Linked DNA regions of Homo sapiens. The protein of the gene in region 2 purifies or fractionates together with the protein of the main gene of each other region. This does not show direct contact. Each region holds a gene or a part of one and is shown on either strand. Other genes may lie near its edges.

Region 1 (4,323 bases), on a different chromosome or scaffold from region 2:
GGGCCTCAGCTGACAATCCTGGGTGGGAGCTCCCATCGGCTGCTCCCTCCCAGTTGGGGTGCTCGGCCCACAGGGAGCAGAAGGAGGGTGTTGGCTTTTTATCAGTCTGCAGCTTTCCTTTAAGTCACCAAGCGCCTCCAACATTCAAAGCTGCGTGCCTGCCACACATAAAAGAGATTCTAATCACTACACCTAATTAGAGGAAAGAGTACATTGCGGAGAAAAAAATTAAGCAGCGTAAATATAATAAAAGGCAGTAATTAACAGTCCCACAAGGCGGATGCTGTGTTGACAGCTGAAGGATGTAGAGAGGGGATGGAATGGATCCACTTCCCCATCAAAAAGAGCCGTGGCTGCCCTGGTGGGAATCGGTGTGAAGTGAGAGCCCCAGGTATGGGGCCGGATTTACTCCATGTACAAATCTACAGCAAAGAACCAGCTCAGATCCTCCCAGGATGAGTCACAAAATGATATCCTGGGGGTTACAAGAGTCTGACTCCTAAATTTCCTTCTTGGATTTAGTGCAGCTGATTTCACTTTATGGTGGTGTTTGTAATTTTTTTAATACAAGCTTTGAAACACCCTTCCTTCTAAATCACAGATCAGCCCTACAGCCTTACCTTCCTGCTAGAGGAAGAAAGCTGGAGATTGCTGAAATGCGTCATGTTAAGACACCCCCAGACCTCCCCTCGAGTAGAGTGCAAAACCCACTCAACCAGGATTCCAGGTATGGAGGCTGCTCTAGTGGGGTGAAGGTGCTCTAGTGGGGTGAAGGTGACAATCCTGGGTGGGAGCTCCCCTCGGCTGCCCCCTCCCAGTTGGGGTGCTCGGCCCACAGGGAGCAGAAGGAGGGAGTTGGCTTTTTATCAGTCTGCAGCTTTCCTTTAAGTCACCAAGCGCCTCCAACATTCAAAGCTGTGTGCCTGCCACACATAAAAGAGATTCTAATCACTACACCTTCAAGGAGAGGGCAAGGAGACCTTGGCCTCTCTGGTGTTGCCAGGGTGGGGCCTGCTTGGGTATGGGTGTGGTCTGGGACACAGGCATAGGGACTATAGAGTGAGAGGCTTTGCAGGTATGCAGGTAGGATGCACAGCCTCCAGCATTGCCCACAGCTGCCTGGCCTGCTTGCTTGTAAATGAAACACATACACATACACATACACACACACACACACACTTGTAAATGAAACACATACACACACACACACACACACACACACAGCCTCCAGCACTGCCCACAGCTGCCTGGGCTGCTTGCTTGTAAATGAAACACATACACATACACATATATACACACACACACACACACACACACACACAGCCTCCAGCACTGCCCACAGCTGCCTGGCCTGCTTGCTTGTAAATGAAACACATACGCATACACACACGTGCACACACACACAGCCTCCAGCACTGCCCACAGCTGCCTGGCCTGCTTGCTTGTAAATGAAACACATACACATATACAGGCGCGCGCGCACACACACACACACACACACACACGGCCTCCAGCACTGCTCACAGCTGCCTGGCCTGCTTGCTTGTAAATGACACACATACACATACACGTGCGTGCTCACACACGTGCGTGCTCACACACACACACACACAGCCTCCAGCACTGCTCACAGCTGCCTGGCCTGCTTGCTTGTAAATGAAACACATACACATACACACACACACGCGCACACAGCCTCCAGCACTGCTCACAGTTGCCTGGCCTGCTTGCTTGTAAATGGAACACATACACATACATACACACACATGCACACGCACACACAGAGCCTCCAGCACTGCCCACTGCTGCCCGGCCTGCTTGCTTGTACATGAAACATATACACATACACAGATGCGCACGCACACAGACACATATACAGCCTCCAGCACTGCTCACTGCTGCCCGGCCTGCTTGCTTGTATATGAAACATATATACATACAGATGTGCACACACACACATGCACACACACACATTCGCACAGACACACACACCGCCAGCCTCCAGCACTGCCCACTGCTGCCCAGCCTGCTTGTTTGTATATGAAACATATGCATACACATACACAGATGTGCATGCACACACATATGCACACACGCACACACACATGGCCTCCAGCATGGGGCCACTCAGTACCTTCCTTGCACTCCAGGGCCACACGGGACTCCAGGTTGTCCATCTGCATCTGCAGCCGCTTCAGCGTGAGGTCACTTTCGCGGGACTTGCGTTTATAGGCAATGAGCACGGCCACGATGAAAATGATGAGGAGGCCGCCAGCCACTGCGATGCTGACGATGGCGGGCAGGCTGAGCGGGCTGTCCGGGGCAATGTACACCATCCCCGGGGAGTACTCCATGCCACCGACACGGGCCTGGGGGCACACAGGGCAAGAGGGAGCTGGGTGTGGGGACGCAGCAGCTTTGGCAACAGTCCCAAGTTACCCATGAACTAGTGACCAGGGCAGGATGACGGAAAGGAGACCAATCACTGGTGTCAAAATAGACAAGAGGGCATGGGGGGCTGGGAGCGGGGACAGGCACAGCTTAACAGAGCTCACCCCCAACTGGAAAAACCTCACCTCCTCTTATTCAGGAGCGAGTTTTGTCATCTTCATAAGAAAACAGCACACAACTGGGACCTAAACACAGTCTGCCACAAATGACTGGCTCCCCTAAGATTTATGCCCAATCTAAGGGTGGACAACTGAAGCACAGAACATGATATTAAGATATTACGGAATTCCCTGGGCCAGCAACAGCCTTCTCCTTGAAGGCTTTGTTTGTTGCAGGTGATTTAGCAACTATTTAATGCTGTTTTGCATTTTCCTTATTGTTGCACCAGCCAGTGTGGAAAGAATGACAATACAGAAGAGAGAAGCTCAAAAGTGAACATGAAGAAAGAACTTGGGGTGTGGGGTAGCTACAGGAAAAGTTCTTTGTGGGACAGAATCCCCTCTTGGAAAGCCTTGGTGGCCTGAGCTCACATCTGCATCCCTACTGCCCGCTCCATCCAGGATGGGGTTCTGCCAGCCTCACCATCACTTTGTGCCTGCCGATGAGGTTGGGGGACTCGCAGAGCAGCTGGACATCTGACACGGTCACGGTGCACGGCTTCTCCCCAACCAGCACAGTGTAGTTCAGCTTCACGTTGCCCCCAGCCACAGGCGGGATCAGGTTCTTGCCCTGTACAAATGGGAAAGCACCAGTTCCCACCCCAGAGTGAGGACCACAGCTACCAGCTGGCTCTCATGTCCTCCCACCTGGAGGTCCCATCCCGCTGGTGAGCTGGTGAAGAAGCCACCTTTGGTAATAAGTGCAAAAAATATTCATGGCATGACTACCACCATTGCCTCTTCCTCCCAGTGGCTAATCAGTTATCAAAGTACTCCTTTCAGCTTATCCCAAATGCAGCCTCAGAATCCTTCTCAATGCAGAGTTGGAGTCAGTCACTACCAATTGATTCAAATTGTCATAAGCTTTAATTAACCTGTAACCCATGTTCCAAAGGAAGCCCTATGCTGTGGTTCGCACAAGGCTGCCTCAGAGGAAGCAGTGAGCCTGACCTGCCAGTACTTGGACTTTCAGGACAATAAAAGCTTGAGAGTCAAATAGCCAAGGTGGATCTGCCTTCCCTGGGTAGAACCGGCCCCTAAAGAGAGTTTTCTTCCCAGTACAGACTCAGAGAGAACATTTATCACACTCTGGGCTACACTGCAACCTCTGCAAGAGATGCTGGTTGAGAAATGTGGCAGGAGTCTGTGACTTGAACACCCCCTTCCATGCAGCAGCCCCTTCTTTTCCCACCCCCGCCTCCCACCACCCTCACTCCACCTTTAGGATGATGGGCGTGCCAGGCTTGAGCTCCAGGATTCCTGAGGGACCAAAGGCCTCAAACACCGGGTTGGGATAGTAGGTGAAGTTGGTCTTGTTGAGGATGAGCAGGGACTGGACGTTGTCCAGGATGAAGCCAAACTCCTCGGGCCTCTCGGTCAGGTCTGACTGGTGGTCAGGACCCAGAGCGAGGGCGGGCGCCTGACAGGTCATCTCAGTAGCGTTCAGAACCTCACAGATCTGTGGGAGGAGCCACAGAGTGGAGTCTATGCAGTATCTCCACATACCCACAGCCCCAGTGCACATAGTGGGCCTCCCTGGATGTCATCGGGATAGCAAGGGGTTGACAAGAGGATTAGAGATGAGTCAGGGCCACACAATTGGGCACTCAAGGAATAGGCTCTATAGCTTGCACCCAGCTCCGGTTTTGCCCATAGTGGGTGTGGCAATGGCTAGGATTGGAAGAATGCAAGAGTAAAGGTATAAAACCCAGGG
Region 2 (4,323 bases):
CCCAGTGCTCTAGAAGGCCAAGGTAGGGCATCACTTGAGGCCAGGAATTTAAGATCAGCCTGGGCAATGTTGCAAGCAAGACCCTGTCTCTTTAAAAAAAAAAAAAAAAATTAAATTAGCCAGGCATGGTGGTGCACACCCATGGTCCTAGCTACTTGGGAGGCTGAGGTGGGAGGATCACTTGAGCCCAGGAGTTGGAGGTTGCAATGAGCTATGATCACACCACTATACTCCAGCGTGGGCAACAGAGTGAGACCCTCTTAAAAAGGGCCAGGCACAGTGGCTCACGCCTGTAATCCCAGCACTTTGGAAGGCCGAGGCCGGCAGATCTCGAGGCCAGGAGTTTGAGACCAGCCTGGCCAATATGGTGAAATCCCATCTCTACTAAAAATACAAAAATTAGCCAGGCGTGGTGGCAGGCGCCTGTAGTCCCAGCTACTCGGAAGGCTGAGGCAGAAGAATCACTTGAACCTGGGAGGCAGAGGTTGCAGTGAGCCGAGATTGTGCCACTGCACTCCAGCCTGGGCAACAGAGCAAGATGCTGTCTCAAAAAAAAAAAAAAAAAAAAAAATCCACTGGCGAGTGAGGCATGGTGGTACATGCATGTAATCCCAGCTACTCAGGAGGTTGAGGTGGAAGGATTGCTTGATCCCAGGAGTTCAAGACTAGCCTGGGCAACATAGCAAGACCCCATCTCAAAAAAAAAAAAAAAAGTCCATTGGCATTAGCTTTCCTCACCAGAACTTTAGGATGTATCTCAGATTATTCTTCCAGTTTCTAGATCTCTTTCCCATCACAAGACTGAAGAAGCAAACTACTTGCAGAGATGGAAGTAGCCAGATGTGGAGATGAGTTCACTGACCACTTTGATGTTTTTCTGCCAGTGATGATAAGTGGTAACCAAAAGGGATGATCAAGAACTTCCTCAGTCACAACATAGCCTATGAGCAGACCTCAGAAACATACCCTTCCCCATTTCTCTGTAGATGTGAAATGTGAAATGTGACAAGGGCCAAACATCAGACTCTTCCCAAAGGTTCCGATGTCCAGTCTGGGGACACCTGGGCCAACACAGCAGCCCCAGCTGTGAAGATGGAAGGTCCAAGAGGCACCAGAGAAGCAGATGATAAATGGACCACCTCAAAATCCAAAGACTGGAAGAAAATTAAAACAATAAAGAATAAACTTGGCTGGGTGTGGTGGTTCACACTTAATAATCCCAGTACTTTGGGAGACCGAGGCAGGAGAAATGCTTGAGCCCAGAAGTTCAAGACCAGCCTGAGCAACACAGTGAGACTGTCTCTACCAAAAAAAAAAAAAATTAGCCAGATGTGGTGGCACATGCCTGTAGTACCAGCTACTCAGGAGGCTGAGGCAGGAGAATCACTTGAACCCAGGAGGCAGAGGTTGCAGTGAGCCAAGATCACGCCATTGCACTCCAGCCTGGGCAACAAGAGCGAAACTCAGTCTCAAAAAAAAAAAAAAAAAAAAAAAAAAAACAGGAAAGGAAACGAAAAAGCTTGTGGTACTAGCTGTTTCTTCTGGATAAAAAACTGGCCTTGATGACTACATTAAAGAAAGAATATCAGATAAGACCATGCATTCTCAGTGAGTGCAGTAACAGCCCAGAAGGGGTGAAAATTGATTCTTGGGGGAAAAAAAGTTAGATATTACAATGGTTTGTGGCCATCCAAAGGGCCACAATACAAAAACAGATACACAGTACATCTGTGGTATTAAAATTCCATTGGGGGTAGCTGGGCACGATGGCTCATGCCTGTAATCCCAGCACTTTGGGAGACTGAGGTGGGCAGATCACTTAAGGCCAGGAGTTCAAGACCAGCCTGGCCAACATGGCAAAACACAAAAACTACTACTAAATAACACAAAAATTAGTTGGGCATGGTGGTGGGCGCCTATAATCCCAGTTACTCAGGAGGCTGAAGCACAAGAATCACTTGAACCCAGGAGGCAGAGGCCACAGTGAGCAGAGATCACACCACTGCACTCCAGCCTGGGCGACAGAGTGAGACTCCCTCTCAAAAAAACATTCCACTGGGGAGTAGACAATTAAGGGAAAAAAAGTCTCAAAATATGATAATGAACAAAAGGTTGAAAAATAATTAGATGAACCCAAAGGGTTGAGTCTTAGATGAACCCTAAGGGCACAGTGTTCATTAACTTGTATAATGGTCATGGGTAGGGTAACTAACTTGTCCTGGTTTGCCCCGGACTTTCCTGCTTTTGGCACTAAAAGTCCCACATACGGATATCCCTCTGTCCTGGGAAAACTGGCATGGTGGTCCACTCTTCTCAAGAGAGAGATCAATGAAGGCATTCCCATTTCACAAATGAGGTGACACCAAGAAACACAGTGGTTGTCACGGATTCACAGCACTTTAGCAGCATTCCTGAGGCAAGGCTGGCTCTTTCCATTTGTCTAGTCCTATGCTCACAACTCTCTGCCCCTGATTTCCACTTTGGCAGAGAATGTTACTCATGAATTGATTATGCCACTTCCTTCTCAATACCAAAGCCAAGGGCAGTATTAGGAGGATGAAGGCAAACATGGCCAGCCAGCATAATCACAGCCATGTCTTACAGCTGCCTGGTGGAACCTGAAGGAACTACAAGTCTGGGCTGAATATAGTTTTGTTGCTACTGGATTCTGGGTACAAATTTGCAAAAGTAAGAATGCCAGGTGTAAACTCCTCACAAGCTAGGAAAATTCCTAGCTTGAGGTTCTCCACATGTGTCTGAGCAGCCCGAATCTTTTACAAGGTTTTTGTCCCAAAGATGAACTCAGTTATTGCTTATGCTAGGAATCAGGGGTTACCCAAGGCCTCACTCTGAATGGCAACAGGCTATTCTCCTACTCCCCTACTCAGCAGTGAAATCCTTGGTGAAAGTAAAGGAAGAAAAGAAAAGGGCATGCTATTCCGTCTTTAGTCTACGTATAATTAAAATACAAGACTCTCTGCTGTAGAAGACTAAGGTTTGCAGTTTAAGGCCGACTCAGAAAAGGATAAAGTATTCATCCTTGCTCAGAAAGAGAGAAGATTAGCTCCACAGGATGGGTCTCCAAATTGACACCAAATCCAGGAGTTAGAGATGGCTGTGCTACAGAGCGTGATCCAAGCACCATCTGGAGCCCCCAGAAAAAAATCCCTAGGAATAGCGACTAAGGGACTAGCATTGTAAGAGAGTTCAGATTAGCTCTCCTGAAAAGAGGCTTACTACAAGAGACTGGCAGACAGCCTCTGCAGCAAAACTTCACTTAGGAAAGGACAGAAAATGAATGAAGAAAGACAGGGGGAGGCTGAGCAGGTCAGAGTATGAATCCACAAGTATGTGAAAAAGAGAATCCACCTATTTCGAAAAAGGTACAACTTCCTTTCAGAGCCTTTTTTTTTTTTTTTGAGACAGAATCTCTCGCTCTATCACCCAGGCTGGAGTGCAATGGCACAATGATCTCGGCTCATTGCAACCTCCGCCTCCCGAGTTCAAGTGATTCTCCTGCCTCAGCCTCCCGAGTAGCTGGGATTACAGGCATGCGCCACCACGCCCGGCTAATTTTGCATTTTTAGTAGAGACGGGGTTTCTCCATGTTGGTCAGGCTGGTCTTGAACTCCCGACCTCAGGTGATCCACCCACCTCAGCCTCCCAAAGTGCTGGGATTACAGGTGTGAGCCACCGCACCCGGCCAGAGACTCTCATGTTCTTTTGAATATTCTCATTAACGGCAAATCTTCATTCTTTGAGGGTGAAAACATTTATTGCATTCCTATGTCCCAAGAGCTTTCATGTGTAATACGTCATTTAACCACCCTTCAAAGTAAATATTATTCCCAGTTTTTTTTGTTTTGTTTTGTTTTGTTTTGAGACGGAGTCTCGCTCTGTCGCCCAGGCTGGAGTGAATGGCGTGATCTCCGCTCACTGCAAGCTCCGCTTCCCAGGTTCACGCCATTCTCCTGCCTCAGCCTCCTGAGTAGCTGGGACTACAGGCACCCACCACCTCGCCCGGGTAATTTTTTGTATTTTTAGTAGAGACGGGGTTTCACCGTGTTAGCCAGGATGGTCTCGATCTCCTGACCTCGTGATCCGCCCACCTTGGCCTCCCAAAGTGCTGGGATTACAGGCGTGAGCCACCATGCCCGGCCCTATTCCCACTGTTATGTAGTGGTACATTGAGCCCCAGAGGTGAAGTAACTTATCCAAGGTTATGTGGCTAATAAGTGGTAGACTCAGAATTAAAACTCATGTTCACCACCCTCCAAAAATCTGTTATTTCCACTTCAAAAGAACTGTTAACTCATCTGAAGA
Region 3 (3,984 bases), on a different chromosome or scaffold from region 2:
ATACATGTGGTGAGTGGAGAACAGGGTAACTTTAAATGAAAGTGTAAGGCAAATTGTAAGCACCACAAGATATATCAGATTTGAGAGGTGCCATGTTAAACATTGTCCATTAAACTATAAAACTGTATTATGAAGTATTTGCATTCAGGGTGTCCTGAATATGATTGATTCTGTATTAGATTGTGTTCTAACTTTCTTACTATTTAAGGATTGGTTCTAAATCTTCACATTATAAAAGATTAAAAACAGTGAGAGGGAGCTATCACACAGGTACTATTAAAAGCTGTATTTGGAATATGTGTACCAATATCAGTTTTCCTTTTGTAGTACTGAATGGCAGTAGAAGAATCAGCAGCCAATCCTCAAAGTTTAAATCATTTAAGGAAATGGGGAAACAAAATTCCAGGTAAATAACAAGACTGAAAAACTAGATTTAAAATAGTGGTTTTAGAAAACAGGATATCACAAGTAACAGTTTTTCAAATGGATTTTTTTAAAGATAAATTTATGAAAACAGGATAAACAATATAATGGAGAGAAGGAGAAATAGTGATGGGTCTGTTTTGCAGTAAAGTTTATGCAGAATGACGTTTTGCAGAAAATAACAGAAGCATCACTTTAAAAAATATATCATTAAGAGCCATGACGTTAACTGATGAAAATAAGTGATATAACATACTTTGAAAGATTTTTAAACAGAAAATTCTGAATCGTGAATGAGCCTTCTCTAGGTTTTAATTTTTTTTCTTCAAATTATTTCCAACAAAGTTTGGCTATAAACTAACACCATCTATCCACAGGAATTTTAATAGGAAAGGATTAGAATTGTAGACTGATTGTTGGTCCTTTAAGTATGCTTGGAAGAAAATTCAATCGAGTTTCAAGGCTTTTTCTAAATGGGAGGGAGAACAATATTGATTTAGGATTATTTTCTTTCATTTAGGATTAGAACAGTTAAGTGCCTTTAAAAAGGACTTTAAAAATTATTTTGATACTTATATATGATTTTTAATTGTTTTCGTATTTTCCAAATACCATATTAAAATTTTAATGAAATTTATCTCCTATGAAAGGAATTTCTTTAAAGCAAAATTCTGCTTTGCCTTTGATTTCCATTTTAAAAGTTAAAGGCTTCCATCTGAAACTCCTCAAATAGAGTCAGATTTTTGGCAATGGAAGTATTAAAATTCCGATCAGCCCTTTGGACGATGAAGTTTACCTGCATATTAGGATTTGTTAGGAGTTTTTGGCCTCACCAAGTGATTCTTTTCTATTGCAGAGAGCACTTTACTCACCTACCTGTTATGCAACTTTCCCTATGCCTGGAGGTGCCTCCAGCCAGGATACCCTACTTTGTTACCCAATTCTCCTTTTTGTTTTACAAGAGTATTCATAATATCTATATGTTTATATTCCAGACTACATATTTAAAAATGAGATCTCAAATTATATGAAATGGATTTTTAAATACTGTGTTTGCATACATTGACCTATAAAGAAGATTAAATATTTAGGTGAATAATTCCCTGCTGCAGTATTTGTACACTTCAGACTACCTCTTAGGAAAAGCTTAACTTAGTATTGCAAAATTCCCTTTCTCTTTTTTTTTTTAAGAGATGGGGTCTCGCACTGTTGCCCAGGCTGAAGTGCAGTGGCATGATTGTAACTCACTGCATCCTCGAACTCCTGGGTTCAAGCAATCCTCCTGCTTCCATCTGCTGAGTAGGTAGGACTACAGCCATGCACCAACAAACCTGGCTAATTCTTTTTCATTTATATAGTTAGTATCTTGCTGTGTTGTTCAAGCTGGACTCCAACTCCCGGACTCAAGTAATCCTCCCACCTTAGTCTCCTGCATTGCTGGAATTATAGGCACGAGCCACTGCACCTGGCACCCAAATTACTTCTAGTTCTCAAGTTAGATGATTAATATCACACTTTTCTCATGTATGTTTTATGATAGCATTGAATTTTTATAATTAAAAATTTACTAATGCAAACAAGATTTACAGTCTTTAATACAATCTTAATTTTGGAATTCATGAAGGAATGACTAAGTTCTAATTTTTTTTTTTTTTTTTTTGAAACTGAGTCTCGCTCTGTCGCCTAGGCTGGAGTGCAGTGGTGCAATCTCAGCTCACTGCAACCTCCGTCTCCCGGGTTCAAGTGATTCTCCTGCCTCAGCCTGTTGAGTAGCTGGGACTACAGGTGCGTACCACCAAGCCCAGCTAATTTTTTTATATTTTTAGTAGAGACGGGGTTTCACTGTGTTAGCCAGGATGGTCTCAATCTCCTGACCTCATGATCCGCCCACCTTGGCCTCCCAAAGTGTTGGGATTACAGGCATGAGCCACTGCCCCTGGACAGATCTAATTTTTTAATAGTGTAAGAGAGATACACTGTGCATTCCATCTATGTCCTGAGTTAGTAATTCAAGTACCAAAAAGTAATTTAATATGAAACTCCTTGAAAATTCAGAGCTTACACTTGAATTCAAAATGCCTATTTTTGATTGTTTAAAAGTTACTTAAACCTGAGCTTTAGGACCTTTAAAATCTCAGCATGCCTTTTAAGCTAGTACTTTTCCTGTTTTGAGCTCTAGCAAACCTTCAGCAAGCCAAGGTGGTAGCCCTTTTTCAACACAATCAAAATAGAGAGGTCACCAGTTGTTTACTACCTTATGGTAAAATGCCCGGATCAAGATCCATGTATCCCCCCCATATTGTGATGATGCAATCAAAGCATAGTTTTTTTCTACTTTCTGAAATATTACTGATGAAATCACTTTACATTTAAGAGGAGAAAACAGACTGCCTTGGATTTTTTTTTTGTCTTGAGAGAAAAAACAAAATATTTAGTATTGCAAGCATAAACATTTGGACTCAATAAATGACAAATTATGAAACTTTTTTTGTCTTTTTAATACTAGGAGAAAATTAAAATCATGTACCCCCAAATAAGCCTCAGTTCCCATATTTAAACTTTTTTCTCATAGGAAAGCTACAGGAATTTTAAGATATCACATGGTTACATTTGCTTTTCTTCCAGATGGAGCTAAATTGCTATATGATACAGGGTTTATTTTATATTTCTCATATTAAAGATGAAAAAGTGAAAATTGAGTAGTTGACTCAAAATTATATGTATATATATATATATGTTAACAGTTGAATACAAACAAGATTACAAGCAGTGAAACATTCAAATAGTTTTGGCAACTCCAAATATTTTGTGTTTCACAAAAGGAGTTAGGTTAACTTTTCCAAATATAACTCATTTTATACTATTTTAATAAGGAGAAACTTAAGGATGAGAAGGCATGAGGAAAAGTATACATTAGTGAAAGCTATATACTAAAGCAGACCTTCAACAACAGCTCATAACTAATAAATGCTTTGTATTTTGTTTTCAAGCAGTTATGTAAATCAATTTGGTGATTTCTTACACTGTACTTACATTTACTTGACCCAAATTGCCGTATCAATCACATCTCCTATCCCTTTTGCAGTTCCAGGTTGGAATCAGTATTTCAAATAAAGTAGGGACACATCTAAAATATTTGTGTATCGGTAAAGGTGTTTCTGGCTATTTAAACTCAAGCATCCTTTGCCACAGTAGTATCTCCGTTTTGCACGGTACTACTGTCTCTCAAACCAGTTACATCTGAAAACCAGCAATTACTAGTCTTAGTTAATTACAAAAAAAAAAAAAAATTAAGCGATCTAGGCAGTGAGCATTTTTCCATACCTTTATGTGGGCATATGAGAATCATTACTTCTTACTATAGGCAGTTGCTTATGTTCCCAGACATTATTAGAATAGCAGTTCTAGAAGAGTAGCCATGTGGAAATTTACAAGTGATTCTTGTAAACTTTGAAAATTATTGATGTTTTTGGAAACTAGGCTGATCTACTTTAATTGTTTATGTTTATTGTAAGATAACATGCTCTTTGGGCATTATTAGACCAGTCTCTACCTTGAGAT
Region 4 (4,323 bases), on a different chromosome or scaffold from region 2:
TCAGACGCATGGCCCTCAAGCAACCCACAAAGGGGCGTCTCTTAAGCTCTGCAGATCCTGGGAAGGGTAGGCAACAGGTCAAGAAATGGAGGCAGGGCCAGGCGCGGTGGCTCACGCCTGTAATCCCAGCACTTTGGGAGGCCGAGGCGGGCGAATCACGAGCTCAGGAGATCGAGACCATCCTGGCTAACATGATGAAACCCCGTCTCTACTAAAAAATACAAAAAAAATTAGCTGGGCACGGTGGCGGGCGCCTGTAGTCCCAGCTACTCGGGAGGCTGAGGCAGGAGAACTGCTTGAACCCAGGAGGCGGAGCTTGCAGTGGGCCGAGATCGTGCCACTGCACTCCAGCCTGGGTGACAGAGCGAGACTCCGTCTCAAAAAAAAAAAAAAAAGAAAAGAAATGGAGGCAGAGCCAGAGACAGGATGAAGTATTGTAGTTGGAAAGGGAGCCAAGAGGGCTGGAAGAATAGAATAGGATACAAAGGCCTGGAGGGACAAGTGAGACACTGGCTTGCTCTGAAGCAGAGGGGACTGGCACCTAAGACAGGAGGCTCCTGGAAACAAGGCGAGTGGCCTTGGAGGATGGGGAGGTAAAGGAGGCTTCAGACTTGCCTCTGGGTTGCTGCTTACCCACATAGAGGGGCTGGTCATACTCCATCCAGATGTAGGTCTGCAGTGGCATAGGCCGCAGAACCCAGGGCCGGTGATCCACTCGGAGCCGGGCCTGCTTCACGTTGATTTCAGCCCGGACCAGGTGCCACTCGTCATCATTGAACTCAAAGTCGTCTGAGTGTACTGTGAGGTTCTCATCCCCATTCCCCACATCAAAGGCGAAGACCACATCCCGGGATGCTGGACAGTGTGATGCAGGGTAGGGGAGAAAAGGACTCAGACCTACAAGACCCTTCATAGATCCTTGCCCAATATAACCTCTTTCCCTCACCTCTTTGGAGCTTCTTGAATATCCCTCCAATTTGTCTGTAGCTTGCATTGAAACTTACCAGCTGCTTAAAAACCTCATACCCTTTGTCTCTCCCCACATCACAGATCCCTGAAGCCAGCTTCCCAGCCTCACTTCCCAGGCTAGAAGCATGGCTAATCAGCGGTGAGAGGGACTCGAAGGTCCAGCTTCCTTATGGCACAAGGAAGGGGCTTAAGGCCAAGAGAGGCCAAGTGAATGCCTAGGGTCACCCAGCCAGCCGTCAAGACCGAGTGAGGGCTAGAACATAGGGTATCTCAACCCTTCCCATGCTGCCTGTCAAAAGGGCATCTGCCCTTGGCTCCAACCCCAGCCTACCCCTGTCTCCCCAGACAGCACTTTCATCTACCCCGAGGCCCTCCCACAGTCTGCCTGCTCACTGTTGAGTTCCACCCGCACATAAGGTCGGCGCCACTGGCAGTAAGGGCCCCCCATATTCTCTAGGAAGACCCCCGAGGGAGCAGAGGTCCTGAAGTAGAAGGAGACATCCAGGCTGTGGTTGGCACGGATTGGGGGGAAGCGTAGTGCAGCCCCGGTGTGGAAGGAAATGGTGTTCCAGGAATTTCCTAGAAAAGCAGATGGAGGAAGGTCTTGTCAGGGAGATTGGAGGGTGGAGGAGGAAGAGAACCTGGGGTTGGGGGCAGGGAAGGTTGGGCAAAGGGGGAGGGTTTGAGGTGACGGAGGGGAGACTAAGGAGTGGAATGAAAGAGGAGCCAGGTGCAGAGGGGTAATGAGATCGCATCACAGCAGGAGCTGGGGGTCGGGCACCCCAGCTAGAGACCACCAGTGACATGCGGCCTAGATTTTGGAAACTGGAGAGTCAGCTCTGGGAGGGCACACAAAAGGGGACTGCCACTCACGATCGCCATAGCAGCGCAGAGGCCTCAGGAAGAACTGGGCCTCAGAAGTGGAGCGGTTCGTATCCCCTATCACTACCTGAGTGACAGGCAGATGGTCCACAAAGGTCAGCAGTCCCTTGTCAGTTCTCCTGTGGGGGCAGGATGTCATGGCTCAGCCCCAGCCACTCAGCTCCTCCCACTCCCGGAGTCCTAAAAACCCTGTCCCTTTGCCCCCTCACCACTGGGGCTGGTCAGCGTCACAGTTGCAGTACAAGGCAGGGTCCACACAGCTCCGGTCCAGACCACAGGCACAGCGCTGGATCCCAGGCTGGGAGCCTCCCCAGTAGAAGTGCTGCTCCTCATTTCGGCCAATCCAAAAGCTGTAGGGGTAGCCTCCTGGGGAAGAGGTGCAGGCAGCTTCCAGGCCCTGTCCCTCCATTAGCCTCTGGGCTCCTCTCGCCCTTCCAGCGAGTTCAGACCCCTCCTTGAATCTTCCAACCCAAGGCCCCAGCTGGCTCTCTGGCTTCCTTCTCCCAGGCCCCCATTGGTGTCTCCTCCAGTTCCGCCACCTCCCTGACCCCAGCCCTAACCTGCAGTGTTGAGCAGCCGGGAATTGTAGCAGGAGAACTCGATCCACTGTTCACAATGCTGGGAAGCATTGGCAAGGGCACTGACTTCCTCCCAGGATGCATTCCAGTACTGGATAGCCCCCAGGAATGGCCGCTCCATGCTGGAACCTGTCACTCGAGTTGTCCACAGCCTGTCATGCCGCACAACTGTCCACGCTCGGTTCTCTGGCAGACAAGAGGGGACAGAGCTTTGGCTGGAGTTGGGCATTCTCTACCCATCTCCCTGCCCACCTCCACCACCGCTGCTGCAACTCAGAGCCACTGAACGTGGCCAGCAGCTCCATTCCACCTCTGCCCTGGGCACTCTGCATTGTAGGCTGGAAATAAGATAGCTGGAATGGGTAAGGAAGCTGGGATATACTTTTTTTTTTTTTTTTTTTGAGATGAAGTCTCGCTCTGTTGCCCAGGCTGGAGTCCAATGGCGCTATCTCAGCTCACTGCAACCTCCACCTCCCAGGTTCAAGTGATTCTCCTGCCTCAACCTCCCGAGTAGCTTCCCAAAGTGCTGGGATTACAGGTGTGAGCCACCACGCCTGGCTTGGGATTTACTTTTAAGGCTAGGTTACAAATTCCTCAGTATGCCCTTCCCCTCTGTCCTCCTTTACCCTCACTTGTTTAGTCTAACTGGCCCCCACCCACCACTCTATCCTTCCTGGTTCTCCCCTCACCCCCTCACCACCCAACAGAGACACTTACCTCGGATATCACAGTACACTACAAATGGCTTCAGGGGGCCACTGCCATCAGGATCAATGGTGAAGTTTCCAGAAGTTTTCCCACTGAGCCGATAAGCCTCACAGGATTCCTTATACAAAGCTGGCAGATAATAGGTTGAGACAAAGGCAGTTAGAGAGTTAGAGGGCTGGCCAGGTGCGGCGGCTCGGGCCTGTAATCCCAGCACTTTGGGAGGCCGGGGTGGTGCATCACCCGAGGTCAGGAGTTCGAGACCAGCCTGGCCAACATGGTGAAACCCCATCTCTAATAAAAATATAAAAATTAGCTAGGCGTGGTGGTGTGCACCTGTAGTCCCAGCTACTTAGGAGGCTGAGGCAGGAGAATCGCTTGAACCCAGGAGGCAGAGGTTGCAGCGAGCCCAGATGGCACCACTGCACTCTAGCCTGGGCAACAGAGCAAGACTCTGTCTCAAAAAAACCAAAAACAAAAAGCGAGAGGGCTGGAAGGGCCATCCTCGCCATCTCTAGCAGCCTGATGATCCCCAGCAACCTTCTATTGACCTCCCTTGTCCCTGACTCCCCCCATACCACATCTGGCTTACGTGTGTGGCAGGTCTCTCCCTTGTAGCCCGTCAGTTCGCAGTAGCAAATGAAGTCATCCCAAGACTGGTAGCAGCGTCCATCATGCTCACACATGTTAGGGCTGCACCTAGGGAAGGGGTCAGGACCAAGGGAAGGAGCCTTACTGGGAGCTGGAGAGTGGGGTCTGATCCCTGCAAGCTTCACTCCCAGCTCCTTGAAGCCCCAGAACCCGGTGAGACACACCCCGCCTAGCCAGCCGGGTATAAGCGCAGATGCAGGGGCACTAGGCAGTCCTCAGGGCTCAAGTACTACTATTCCCCCTTCCTGAAAACATCAAAACATGCCTTATTCTACCCCTATCATCCCCCTAGCACAAAAAACCCCTCTAGGACCAAAAGCAAATGTGTCATTTCCATCCTGAGCATGTATCACCTTAAGGGAAGAAATAGGAGGTAAGAGATCAAAGAAGAATCATCCCCAAGCAGGGGACTAAGGAGCAGAGACAAGGAGAAGGGAGATTATTGAAAGAGGCCATTCCTACTGGGAGACCAGGGAAGAGGGCTTTGGAGGGGTCATCTCTTGTTAGGGGCTTCTGGGTACCTATCAGTGATGCCACA
Region 5 (4,323 bases), on a different chromosome or scaffold from region 2:
ACTGGATATGTCTCTGACAGGGAAGGCAAGGGGTCACAACAAGGCTGGGGGCAGCAAGCAGCCTCCAGACCTTGAGGAAGTAGAAGAAAAGGCCTATGTCCCCATCCCCTAGTCATAGCCAAATGGCCCCCAGGTACCCTAACTCAGATGGCAGTGGAAACCCAAACAACAGCTCAGAAAACACCAGGCTAGACACCTCAGACTTAGCTGATAGTCCAAGACACATAAGCACCCCCAGGGCCTCCCTCAGCATGGCAGGCAGATTAGAGACAGACTTGAATTCAATGGACTCCAGACCTCCCATCTCAAGTGGGCATGGTGACTACGCCCCAACAGGAGACATTCTGACGACCGCTCTGATCAGGAGGGCTCGGACACTACTTCCTAGTGGAAGTACTAGATGTGAAAGGCCCGGACCCAGGCCAGTTCCTGGGGAGAACTGCATGTGGCCTACTTCCCACAGCCGGCCCCCAGGGACCCAGCCCACCCAGGGAGACCAGGGAACCGGCTGCTTTGAAGCTCATTCAGAAAGGAGGCCTTTGCTTCCTTGATTCCATTCCAGGAATTCTCAAACGACAAACATGAAGAAGACTTCCCTTCTTTGTCCCAGCCTCTGCAAGACACCTGAGGTTGCCTCAGTCTCTAGACACACTGATGTCTGCCAGTCCGAGGGCCTCCAGGAAACCCTGATGTCAACTCAGAGCATGGGTTCCAAGGCTCAACTCAACCTCTGGACCAAGGGATGGCTGAGGCCATTAGGGGACAGATTCCATTCAGGCCCCTAAGGGGCGGCTTGCTAACCATGCCCAGATGCAGCCCCCAACCCTTGCCCAATTCAACTCTTATATACCCTTCTCAGCTGCACCAGTCCCAGGCCCAGCAATCTGCCCAGGTCACATGGAAATGCCTCCATCCATCTCCCTGCAGGCTGTGTGGGTGACAAGCCTGTTTCTGCATCTTGCCCACTGCCCAGACAGTGAAGGTACCACCACTCCACACCACTCAGCACCTGGCCGACACCTCTCACCTGATGCCCGTGGAGTGTGTAGAGCAGCCGGCCCTCCATCAGGTCCAGGATCTTCAGGGTTGAGTCACTGGAGGCTGTGATCAGGTAGTTTCCCGACGGGTGGAAAGAGAGCCCGTTCACTGCTGCACTGTGCACTGGGGGAAGGACATCAGTCAGGTGCTGGCTAGGAGGCACAGGGAGCACAGCTGAAGCCCAAGACGGGCAATCAGGGCCAATCGAGGCTCAGCACAGGCCTGATGGGGCTGGGTCAGGATGGTCATTGCTCAGAAGAGCTGTGGGGAACCCAACAAGGATTTCCCAGGAGAGGGGCACAATCGAAGAACAGGAAAAGGCCTGTTCAGAGCCAAGGGCAGGCAGTGGAAGACAGGCGGACAGAAACAGATGCAAAAACCAGAGGCAGCAGACGATTCCTCCATCCTCTCCCACAGCACCAAGCGGTCAAGCTGGAGCAGAATAGAGTACTCAAACATACAAACATAGCCTTTGGTCTGCCCGATATACTCTTTCTTTAAAGAAACCAATGGAAAACAAAACCCTTCAAATGTCAATACAATGCCACTGCCACACAGGAAGGACGTGTGTGGGGGCAGACGAGCAGAAAGCTAAGACACTCTTAGGAAGCAGTCAGGCCTGCATTCGGACCCCAAGCCTCCTGCCTGGGCTCACCCCATGACGTTTTTTGAGAGACAGAGTCTCACTCTGTCGCCCAGACTGGAGTGCAGTGGTGCGACCTCAGCTCACTGCAGCCTCCGTCTCCTGGGTTCAAGAGATTCTCCTGCCTCAGCCTCCTGAGTAGCTGAGACTACAGGTGTGCCACTACGTCCAGCTGATTTTTGTATTTTTAGTAGAGATGGGGTTTCACCATGTTAACCAGGCTGGTCTCAAACTCCTGACCTCAGATGATCCACCTGCCTCGGCCTCTCAAGGTGCTGAGATTACAGCCGTGAGCCACCACATCCATCCTGAGCAAGCATCTTAACCACATTGAGCCTCAGTTTCTCCATCTGTACCATAGCACCTATGTGTAAGAGGTACTGTGCGGATGCTACTAAGTTAAGCACATGAGGTCTTTGCAGAGTGAGCCATCCAATGCCAACATGGATGTTCCTCTCCTTTGCCCCCTGTGTTCCATGCAACTCAAGGTCCTGCCACTTCACCCACTCAACAGCTTGGCCCTGTCCATGACTCTCTTTTCCCTACCATCTCAGGCTAACCCCACCATCTTTTCTGGTGTCCCTCACTCTCCAAGAGCCGGCCACCCCAGCTCTGTCGATTCCCCCAGCCGTAGAACTTTTTTACCCCTTGTTTCCAATGGGCCTGGGAGACTCTTGCCCTTCCCTTTCCCTGACCTTAAAGCTCATTACTGGAAGCTGCCTTCTCCAGGAAGCCTCCCCTGGCCTCCCAATTAGGGCCACCCCCTTCATTTGTCCTTCCAAAGCAGCACAAGCCTCCCATCGGTTCACTCTTCACATTCACATGCAACTATCTGACTCACATCTGGATCTCCCATGAGACCATGAACTCCATCAGGCAGGGGTGGTAAGTCCCTGGCACCGAGCAGGACTCAGAAAGTGGTTGGTGAGCAGGTGCTTAAGCTGGGTATCCAGAAGCCCCAGCAGGTTACACAACTCTCCCTCAAGGTCAAGAGCATGTTCTAGGTGAAGCTGGGGGCACACCTGGGCAGTCTACGTGGGGACAGAGCAACTCCACAGCCAATGCATGGATCAGCTGTATCACAGCCTCCTAGGGTGCCTTCTGAGGAAAACCCCAGTGTCTTTCTTCCCATTACCAGAGGCCCAATGAGGAAAACCAGTGGGGCTAAAATAACCATGACCCTGCCAAGTCAGAATTGCCACCAACATAAAGGCAGATTCAAAACCAACCGTCATCTTAGCACTGAAAGGCTGTAAGAACCACTACTGGGTTGGTAAACACACCCAACACGAAACGGCCCTCAACAAGGCCCACAGGGTGCACGCAGTCCCTCAGATGCCAGCCCAGCTGATGTGCCGATGTGCCGGGGAGTCTGGATACGTGTTCCCAGGCACACTTAGGGGGAAACAGCCAAGGCTTTACGTAACATGATATTTATATCTCAACAACACCCTCCAAGCGCCAGGATCTCCAGGAGGCAGGCTGGAGAGGGACCAGTGGGGTCTCTGAAGCCAGCTCTTGGAGGCAGAATTCAGAGACCCCCCCACCAGAAAGTCTGCACTGGGATGAAGGCCACCTCCACCCCTCCATGAGCAGAAGCTGCCAGAGGAACAGCCGGTGGCAGGAGGGTGCAGAAGGGAGGGCATGCTCAGGGAGCTCTGGGCTTCCCAGCACCATCAAGGTGGCAGGGTCAGTGTATGGATGCCACACCAGGGGCCCCCACCTGGTCAAGCCCATCCAAGGGAAAGAATCTCTCCCAGAAGAAGGGCAACAGAATCTCCACTCCACATAAATGCCAGGAATACCCAAGCCTGGATAGAAACACCTAGAACCATTTACTCCAGAAGAGGGGCTGGCCTGGCATACCAGGCTTTGGGGGATACCCCAGACACCAGGACCCACCCCACCTTTCCCCACTTGCTCTCCTGCCTCACCTACTGGCCGCACCAGCCTCCACTCTCACTCCTCTTGCCTCTGTGGAGGTGGTGGGGAGCGGGTAGTCTATGGAGGCCTCATCGTAAGAACCACCCCTGCATGAGAGTCTACCACGAAGGCTAGGCTGTCCCATGAGGGCATGAGCCTTCTATCATGATGCCTTGAGCGCCAAATGTCTGAGCATGATCCACTTTTTTTCAAGTCCAAAGCCGCAGGCCTCTTCTTGGCTCCATGGCAGATATCAGTGATGACACATACTGCCACCTGGGTGGCAGCTGTGAGCTTGTGGCTCTTATCCCATCTCCACTCCAAAGAGAGAACTCTGACTCCAGGTCAAAGATACACCAACATCAAACTTCTACAGATCCTCAGGGACCCAGGGATGAGGCCACCACAGCCCCTGCTCCCAAATACCAAGAACTAGTCATGGCTTGTGGGCAGTAGGTGGTCTAAGCAGAGACCTGAGTACACCCACTCCATGCTGCTCTGCCTGTAGAGGCTTGGGCAAACCTAGGCCCACTACCTAACGGGCTGCAAACCAGCCAAGGGCCCAGAGAAAGCCTGGGTGCCCAAGCAGGAGGTTCCTCTCTAGAGGAGACCATGCCAGGGCCAAGCCCCATCCCAACATCCTTCCACAAAAGGACCGCTCATTTTCCCCAGGGTGGTCTCTTGCGATGCGCAACTGATGTTACTAGTGACACGGTGGC
Region 6 (4,323 bases), on a different chromosome or scaffold from region 2:
ATCTCCCAATGCTATCCCTCCCCCCTCCCCCCACCCCACAACAGTCCCCAGAGTCTGATGTTCCCCTTCCTGTGTCCATGTGTTCTCATCGTTCAGTTCCCACCTATGAGTGAGAATATGTGGTGTTTGGTTTTTTGTCCTTGCGATAGTTTACTGAGAATGATGATTTCCAATTTCATCCATGTCCCTACAAAGGACATGAACTCATCATGTTTTATGGCTGCATAGTATTCCATGGTGTATATATGCCACATTTTCTTAATCCAGTCTATCATTGTTGGACATTTGGGTTGGTTCCAAGTCTTTGCTATCGTGAATAGTGCCACAATAAACATACATGTGCACGTGTCTTTATAGCAGCATGATTTATAGTCCTTTGGGTATATACCCAGTAATGGGATGGCTGGGTCAAATGGTATTGCTAGTTCTAGATCCCTGAGGAATCGCCACACTGTCTTCCACAATGATTGAACTAGTTTACAGTCCCACCAACAGTGTAAAAGTGTTCCTATTTCTCCACATCCTCTCCAGCACCTGTTGTTTCCTGACTTTTTAATGATTGCCATTCTAACTGGTGTGAGATGGTATCTCATTGTGGTTTTGATTTGCACTTCTGTTGCTCTCTGTTGAGAATTCCCCTTCTTTTCTCTTTTTTTCTTTTAGAGACAGGGTTTCATTCTGTCATCCAGGCTGGAGTGCAGCACCACGATCAAGGCTCACCACAGCCTTGACTTCCTGGGCTCATGTGATCCTCCAGCCTCAGCCCCCCACGTAGCTGGGACTACAGACATGTGTCATCGTGCCTGGCTAATCGTTTTGAATTTTAGTAGAGATGAGGTCTTTCCATATTACCCAGGCTGGTCTTTAACTCCTGAGCTCAAATGTTCCTTCATCCTTGGCCTCCCAAAGTTCTGGAATTGCAGGCATGAGCCACCATGCCTGGCCTTGTTGAGAATTATTCTTACCATGTTTTCCTTGCATTTCTGTGGGTAACTGACACTTGGCTGGTCTATTGTTTTTCCTACATTAGTTGTTTCCTCTCTCAGCTTAGCTTTCCCCTTCACTGTAATACACCTCCCAACTAGCTGTCAGAGTCAACTTGGTAAAACACAAGTTTGATAATATCATTTATTTACTTCTCTAAGACACTTCAATGGCTCTCCATTACCCATTTGTTGATTTGTTCATTCTTCATTTAATCCTTATCAAGCCTTCTTTGTGCTTTAAAGTCTTTTTCACAGCATCCAAGATCCTTCCTAGTTGGGTCCTGCTTCCCTTCCTGGCCTCAACCATATTTCCTATGCTTCCCCCGTTTTTCTCTTGCAATCCCGAACTCCTTTCCCTAAATGTGAGAAGTTCCCTCCCATTCCCATTGCCTGGTAGCCCCCCTGCAATGTTGCCAGGTAAATGTCAACCCCCTCCTCCTCTGTGACACTTTTACTATTTTTGTTGAGTTAATAACTATATAAAAACCAAAGCCCTAACAGTCTGACACACAGAAAAAGTTCAATGAATATTTTCTAAATGAATTAATAGATGAATGAAGAGAAAGGAGAATGAGAAAAGATGGACAAAGGGAAATGAAGTTAGGGTAGAAGAGAAAAGAAAAAAATGCAACAAATAAGGGAGCAGGCACCTTGAGAGATGAGCACGAATGTGCCAGGAAACACAGGTAAAGGAGTTTGGACAAGTACCAGAGAAAAGATCGTGTCTGTGTGGGCTGAATGGATAAAGGCAGCCTGAGCGCAGATTTGTGCTTTGAATGACAGGTGTTAAAAGAGAAATGGAGGTGAGGGCAGGTGATTGGGATGTGTGTTGGATGCTGGATTGCACACAGAGGTGGACAAAGTCTGGCCCACTGTGCCCACTTGTCCACAGAGCACTAGTGTGAGGTTCTCATGACCACTCTTTCCTTTGGGTTCCATGGGCTGTTTTTCTAGTCTCAGGGCTTCTTCCCAGTTCTCTTTACTAGTGCACATACAGAACTGACAGTTTTGAGGGCTCCATGGTCTCATCTTGTAAGCATCTCTTAATTCCACTTTTATTTGCTGCTAGTAGGTATCATGCCTCCCCATTAAGCACCATAGCTGAGCCCTTCTTGCCTCATATACAACTATATTACAGGGATACATTAAATGATGCTTGCTGTCACCCCACAGGTATTCTCTGTGGCTCATTTTGGAATATGATATGTTAAAAGTTTTTTAATCCTTGGTTGTGTTTATTCCAGTTTTCCAGACGGGAATCAGAAACCTAGTTGTAGGTGATGAAACTACTTCTAGCCTGCGGGTAAAATGGGACATTTCTGACAGCGATGTGCAGCAGTTTAGGGTGACCTACATGACAGCTCAAGGGGACCCTGAGGAAGAAGTCATAGGAACGGTCTGTATAAATTCAACTGACTAGAAACTCTGCAGATGTTACTAACACAGCTAATAAGACTGTCTTCGGAGATCAATGCAAACTTTACTGCTCTTTTCTCAGTGACTCTGCCATCTCCAGAAACTAATGTTCTCTGTTAATCTGACTCCACTACTGGCTTCTTAGTGACCTTTATAAATCCAAAACTTGCTCCATGTACAACTTGCTCCAAGTTAATAACCTCTGAACATTGTTTCAAATATTGCTTCTCTTCTGCTGCCTTGCACCTGTTCGAGCACCAAAGTTGGGTCATAAAAGGCCATATGCACTTGTGTCTGTATATATGTATGTATAGACATGTATAAAAGTTTAATATAGAAAATAATTTCTTCTGCCCTTGGAAATCTGATAAAAAAACTTTTAAGCAAAGGACACAGAAAAGGTCTTCTATATGGTATAGTGAAAATATTCTTAATAAAATACCATCCGTTAACCAATAGTTATATTTTTCATTGACATCAACTCGTATTGAGTAGATTTATAGTCATTTCTAATTATTCGTAACATGGATGTATCCCCTCAGGGATTTAGATTTTTATACATTGAGTTTTCTTTGAGTTGTTTTATCTATCTTTCCTTTTTCTAAATGATACACTCTTTTTTTCTAATTTATTTATCTTTTTTTAATATACTTAAGTTCTGGGATACATGTGCAGAACATGCAGGTTTTTTACATAGGTATACATGGACCATGGTAGTTTGCTGCACCCATCAACCCGTCATCTACATTAAGTATTTCTCCTAATGCTATCCCTCCCCTTGCCCCACAACCCCAACAGGACCCAGTGTGTAATGTTCCCCTCCCTGTGTCCATGTGTTCTCATTGTTCAACTCCCACTTATGAGTGAGAACATGTAGTGTTTGGTTGCCTGTTCCTGTGTTAGTTTGCAGAGAATGATGGTTTCCAGCTTCATCCATGTCCCTGCAAAGGACATGAACTCATCCTTTTTTATGGCTGCATAGTATTCCATGGTGTATATGTGCCACATTTTCTTTATCCAGTCTATCATTGATGGGCATTTGGGCTGGTTCCAAGTCTTTGCTATTGTGAGTAGTGCTGCAATAAACATGTGTGGATGTATTGTTATAGTAGAATGATTTATAATGCTTTGGGTATACACCCAGTAATGGGATTGCTGGGTCAAATGGTATTTCTAGTTCTAGGTCTTTGAGGAATCGCTACACTGCCTTCCACAATGGTTGAGCTAATTTACAGTCTCACCAACAGTGTAAAAGTGTTCCTATTTCTCCACATCCTCTCTAGCATCTGTTGTTTCCTGACTTTTTAATGATTGCCGTTCTAACTGGCATGAGATGATATCTCATTGTGGTTTTGATTTGAGTTTTTCTAATGACCAACGATGATGAGCTTTTTTTCATATGTTTGTTGGCTGCATAAATGTATTCTTTTGAGAAAGTGACTGTTAATATCCTTCTCCCACTTTTTGATGGAGTTGTTTGTTTTTTTCTTGTAAATTGGTTTAAGTTCCTTGTAGGTTCTGGATATTAGCCATTTGTCAGATGAGTAGATTGCAAAAATTTTCTCCCATTCTGTAGGTTGCCTGTTCACTCTGATGATAGTTTCTTTAGCTGTGCAGAAGCTCTTTAGTTTAATTAGATCCCATTTGTCTATTTTGGCTTTTGTTGCCATTGCTTTTGGTGTTTTAGTCATGAAGTCTTTGCCCATGCCTGTGTCCTGAATGGTATTGCCTAGGTTTTCTTCCAGGATTTTTATGGTTTTATGTCTTATGTTTAAATCTTTAATCCATCTTTTCATTTTTGAAACATGCGGTGTTTGGTTGCCTGTTTCTTTTTTTGTCTAAGATTCATTTTTGTATAAGGTGTAAGAAAGGGGTCCAATTTCAGTTTTCTGCCTATGCCTAGCCAGGTTTCCCAACACCA
Region 7 (3,500 bases), on a different chromosome or scaffold from region 2:
GTAATATAAATTTATTCTGTGACATTTTCCTCATTGAAGATATTTTAACATAGATTAAAATACATCAATATTTCATGAAAAATAAATTCTAGAAGAATTTAGATAATATCTGTAATGTACATGATTTGACCCTGAATATCCTTTTTTTTTTCACTTCAAACATCATTTTTTAAAAAGTAACATAAAATGATAAGGACTGCAACATTCTTCATATATCTTGTGTCTCATAAATTTTAATTCAACTGCCCGTTCTTTTCTCAACTATGTATGTTAATGGTATTTGCTCCTGTTTTTGAATAGGAAGAGTATCCATTTTCTGTTTCTTCGTGATATTTAGGTCTTCTTTCTCTGATTCTTCAAGAAAATGCTTCGTGCTGAGTTTGAATAGTAATCGAGGGTCTGGATTAGACAGTGGTGGACAATTACACATCTCTCTAATTTTGAGAGCCTATAAAGAAATAATAAAATAAAAAAATACTATATATATACATCAATGTATTCAGATTGTTTCAGTAATCCCTAATATGCTCCATGTAAAACAAAGAATGTATTGTTATTTTTTTAATAAAAGGTATCTTGATTATAACACATAAAAGAGAACCACTGAAAAATCTACAGTGAACAGTTGTTTTCATGATTTGGTCAAATAGTATTATTTTAAAAACAACAACAATAGTATTAATAATCTGTAACAACTGCCCTAATGCTGTTTTGAGGGTAAACAAATCTTAGAGATACATCTATGGTTTCAGTTAAACTCTAGCAGACCGGAGAATCATTCAGATTTAAAAAGGCTCTATGAGAGATTTTTTTCAAGAAAAACTGCAGAACATAGATGACTGAATATACTGAAAAAAGATATACATAACTGATACAGTCTTGGGTAAAATTGATGATAATAACCTAGTGATATGGTTTGCATATGTCTCCACCCAAATCTCATCTTGAATTGCAGTTCCCATAATTCCCACATGTCATGGGAGGTAACTGAATCATGGAGGTGGGTGTTTCCCGTGCTGTTCTCATGATAGTGATTAAGTCTCACGAGATCTGATGGTTTTATAAAGGGCAGTTCCCCCTGCATATGCTCTCTTGACTGCCGCCATGTAAGACATGACTTTTCTCCTCATTCGCCTTCCACCATGATTGTGAGGCCATCCTCAGCCATATGGAACTGTAAGTCAATTAAACCTCTTTCCTTCATAAATTACCTAGTCTCAGGTATGTTTCATTAGCAGCATGAGAATGGACTAATATACTTAGAAAAGTAAACAAATCAAAATCATGACAATTTTTAACTCCAGGAGAAATAAAACATTGCAAAGGAAGGAAAAGTAATCACAGTGTACTATGGGGCTCAGCTATGACTAGTGCTTACAGTTTAAAATACCAAATCTTGATGAAACCAAAAAGTACAATTTCATCATACTGAGAAGGGGAGAGCTGCATGTGTGTGCACATGCACAGGGTGTGACACTGGAAAGAGAGGGCTTACGTCTCATCCTGTAAGGTGGAAAATAATTAAGGCCCAAAATTGAAGTTAGAATGTAGCAACATAAGCATGTTATTTAGACACAATGGGAAATACTAAAAGAATCGTCCAATAGAATTGGAAATAGTTACCCCTGAAACTGATGGCAGGGTTGAGGGACTGGCTGCTGATTTAAGTAACTAGCCTTAGAACTATTTAACTCTTCAAAGTGGGTATATGGATAATTTTAAGATATAAGAGCCAAAATAATTTTTAAGGATAAATGGTCTTAATATTTAGGAGTTTTAAAAGAAAGACATTTAGGGGAAAAAGCTAATTCAGTTTTTTACGACTTCTGGCTTTCTGATACTGATGTGTCTTAAGGGAAGTAAATAAGGCAGTAAAGGAGACAGTGTTTGAGGGACTGGTAAAATCTTAGAAAGACTATCCAGGCAAGGCCTCACTGATAGGATAATGACTTTGGGGGTCAAGAGGGGGACAGACCTGAAGGACATGAGGAAAGAGACCATGTGGCAACCTAGGGAAAAATCATTCCAAGAGGGAGCTGCGAGTACAAGGGAGATGGGAGCGTGCCTGGGGTGTTTTGGAACAGTGAAGAAGCAGGTACAGCCGAGTGGAGCAGGGTGGAGGGCAGGAGCAGATTATGTAGGACCTCACAGGTCATGCTAAGGATTTTAAGTTTTACTCTAAACAGCCTGCCTCTAATATTTGTGGGGTCCATGGAAAGAATGAAAATGGAGGCCCAGATACCATGTCTCTAAACACCTAAAAGCAGTAAGTCAAGCTAATACACTACTACTTAAAATCTGTTCTATTCTCCTACTTTGAAGAATACACATTCGAAATTACCTGGAAGTCCAGGTACAAAACTAGAATTCTTGAATTTCAGAACATGTAAGATTGCAGGGAGCTTACTGTGTAGCTCTTGCCACTAGCCTGCCATCTGCCCCCTCTCCCAGCCCTAGCTTATCTGGCACTGTAAAGGGCCTTGTGTGAATGTGTTCAAGGAAGAGGTCCAGATGGGCCCTGAAAGCAGGCTCAAACATATCTGGGCAAGGAATTCCATTATTCCAGATACCCTGAGTGGGGTATGGTAGGGGCACAGGTTCTTGTATGCTAACATTTCATTGAGTCCCACAGGAGAGAGGGACTTGTAGTCAGATGCGAGCCAGATAGACGTTCTCTAAGTGAATGGGGTCAGGGCAGAAGCTTGGGTCTAGGAGCACTTCTAGCTCTGATTAGGCTCTGAGTTACCAAGGTAAGCTGGAGAGTTGAAAAAACATTACTTAACGTGAAATTCTTCAGTGGCAGTGGTCTTGTCTTATTTTTCTTTGTATTTCACAGCAGATTTAAGATTTCCTTATATCTAGTGAGTGTTAAGTAAATGTTTAAGTAAACTGAATTGACACAACAAGAAAATGTTTCCCAACTATAGCACTTACAGCACTTAAGTAAACAGAAAGTCAGATCCTCAGCTAAACGGTGACCTACTGTCCAAACTGGGATACCTTTGAGAATGAAATGAGATGCTAGCAAGATTTGCACTGAGACATCAGGCATGAGCCATGACTGTCTCTGCAAAATTGGGACGTACGGTCACTCTTGCATTAGTTCCTTTACAATGATGTTAATTTTCTTTCCCAAGTGAGAAGTTTACCTGTCATGGCTGCTATATCAGTGTAGTGCCTATGTTTAAGCACTGCACTGGCATCAGTAAAGGGGGAGAGTATGGAGTCCAGCAGGTAACAACTGGCACAGCTGAGTGTGGCAATGAGAGATGCAAAGCAACAAAGAGAGGAATAGGATGCCATCCCCTAAGATCTTTGTGTATTCAGTAAAAACTCTTCTCTTATCCTTAAATTCGCTTATTCAGTCTTTTTAATACAACAAATATTTAGAACACCACAGTGAGTAAGGTGCTAGGTACACATTGGTCAGAATAGTCATGGTCCCTGCCCTCATGTAATTTACTTTGTATTTCTCCGTTACTGGGCATTAGAATTGTTCC

What was found.
Region 1: the proteins of SIL1 (region 2) and PLXNA4 purify together in Homo sapiens (co-immunoprecipitation; one large-scale study listed by IntAct). This does not show direct contact.
Region 3: the proteins of SIL1 (region 2) and ERGIC2 purify together in Homo sapiens (affinity purification with mass spectrometry; 2 studies listed by BioGRID and IntAct, with this or other methods). This does not show direct contact.
Region 4: the proteins of SIL1 (region 2) and CNTNAP1 purify together in Homo sapiens (affinity purification with mass spectrometry; 2 studies listed by BioGRID and IntAct, with this or other methods). This does not show direct contact.
Region 5: the proteins of SIL1 (region 2) and POC1A purify together in Homo sapiens (affinity purification with mass spectrometry; 3 studies listed by BioGRID and IntAct, with this or other methods). This does not show direct contact.
Region 6: the proteins of SIL1 (region 2) and COL14A1 purify together in Homo sapiens (affinity purification with mass spectrometry; 2 studies listed by BioGRID and IntAct, with this or other methods). This does not show direct contact.
Region 7: the proteins of SIL1 (region 2) and OMA1 purify together in Homo sapiens (affinity purification with mass spectrometry; 2 studies listed by BioGRID and IntAct, with this or other methods). This does not show direct contact.

What each region holds. Positions count from the first base shown.
Region 1 is NC_000007.14:132,177,553-132,181,875, forward strand, and holds part of PLXNA4 (plexin-A4 isoform 1 precursor), read right to left. Parts: intron 4,069-4,323; coding exon 3,829-4,068; intron 3,181-3,828; coding exon 3,034-3,180; intron 2,370-3,033; coding exon 2,135-2,369; intron 1-2,134. UniProt on the Homo sapiens protein: Coreceptor for SEMA3A. Necessary for signaling by class 3 semaphorins and subsequent remodeling of the cytoskeleton. Plays a role in axon guidance in the developing nervous system. Class 3 semaphorins bind to a complex composed of a neuropilin and a plexin.
Region 2 is NC_000005.10:139,191,527-139,195,849, forward strand, and holds part of SIL1 (nucleotide exchange factor SIL1 precursor), read right to left. Parts: intron 1-4,323.
Region 3 is NC_000012.12:29,336,273-29,340,256, reverse strand, and holds the end of ERGIC2 (endoplasmic reticulum-Golgi intermediate compartment protein 2), read left to right. Parts: 3' UTR 1-2,905; downstream 2,906-3,984. UniProt on the Homo sapiens protein: Possible role in transport between endoplasmic reticulum and Golgi.
Region 4 is NC_000017.11:42,689,031-42,693,353, reverse strand, and holds part of CNTNAP1 (contactin-associated protein 1 precursor), read right to left. Parts: coding exon 4,307-4,323; intron 3,834-4,306; coding exon 3,727-3,833; intron 3,267-3,726; coding exon 3,147-3,266; intron 2,616-3,146; coding exon 2,412-2,615; intron 2,218-2,411; coding exon 2,061-2,217; intron 1,971-2,060; coding exon 1,843-1,970; intron 1,549-1,842; coding exon 1,363-1,548; intron 856-1,362; coding exon 634-855; intron 58-633; coding exon 1-57. UniProt on the Homo sapiens protein: Required, with CNTNAP2, for radial and longitudinal organization of myelinated axons. Plays a role in the formation of functional distinct domains critical for saltatory conduction of nerve impulses in myelinated nerve fibers.
Region 5 is NC_000003.12:52,137,142-52,141,464, forward strand, and holds part of POC1A (POC1 centriolar protein homolog A), read right to left. Parts: intron 1,162-4,323; coding exon 1,028-1,161; intron 1-1,027.
Region 6 is NC_000008.11:120,229,237-120,233,559, forward strand, and holds part of COL14A1 (collagen alpha-1(XIV) chain isoform 1 precursor), read left to right. Parts: intron 1-2,230; coding exon 2,231-2,382; intron 2,383-4,323. UniProt on the Homo sapiens protein: Plays an adhesive role by integrating collagen bundles. It is probably associated with the surface of interstitial collagen fibrils via COL1.
Region 7 is NC_000001.11:58,480,727-58,484,226, forward strand, and holds part of OMA1 (metalloendopeptidase OMA1, mitochondrial precursor), read right to left. Parts: intron 449-3,500; coding exon 239-448; 3' UTR 1-238. UniProt on the Homo sapiens protein: Metalloprotease that is part of the quality control system in the inner membrane of mitochondria. Activated in response to various mitochondrial stress, leading to the proteolytic cleavage of target proteins, such as OPA1, UQCC3 and DELE1.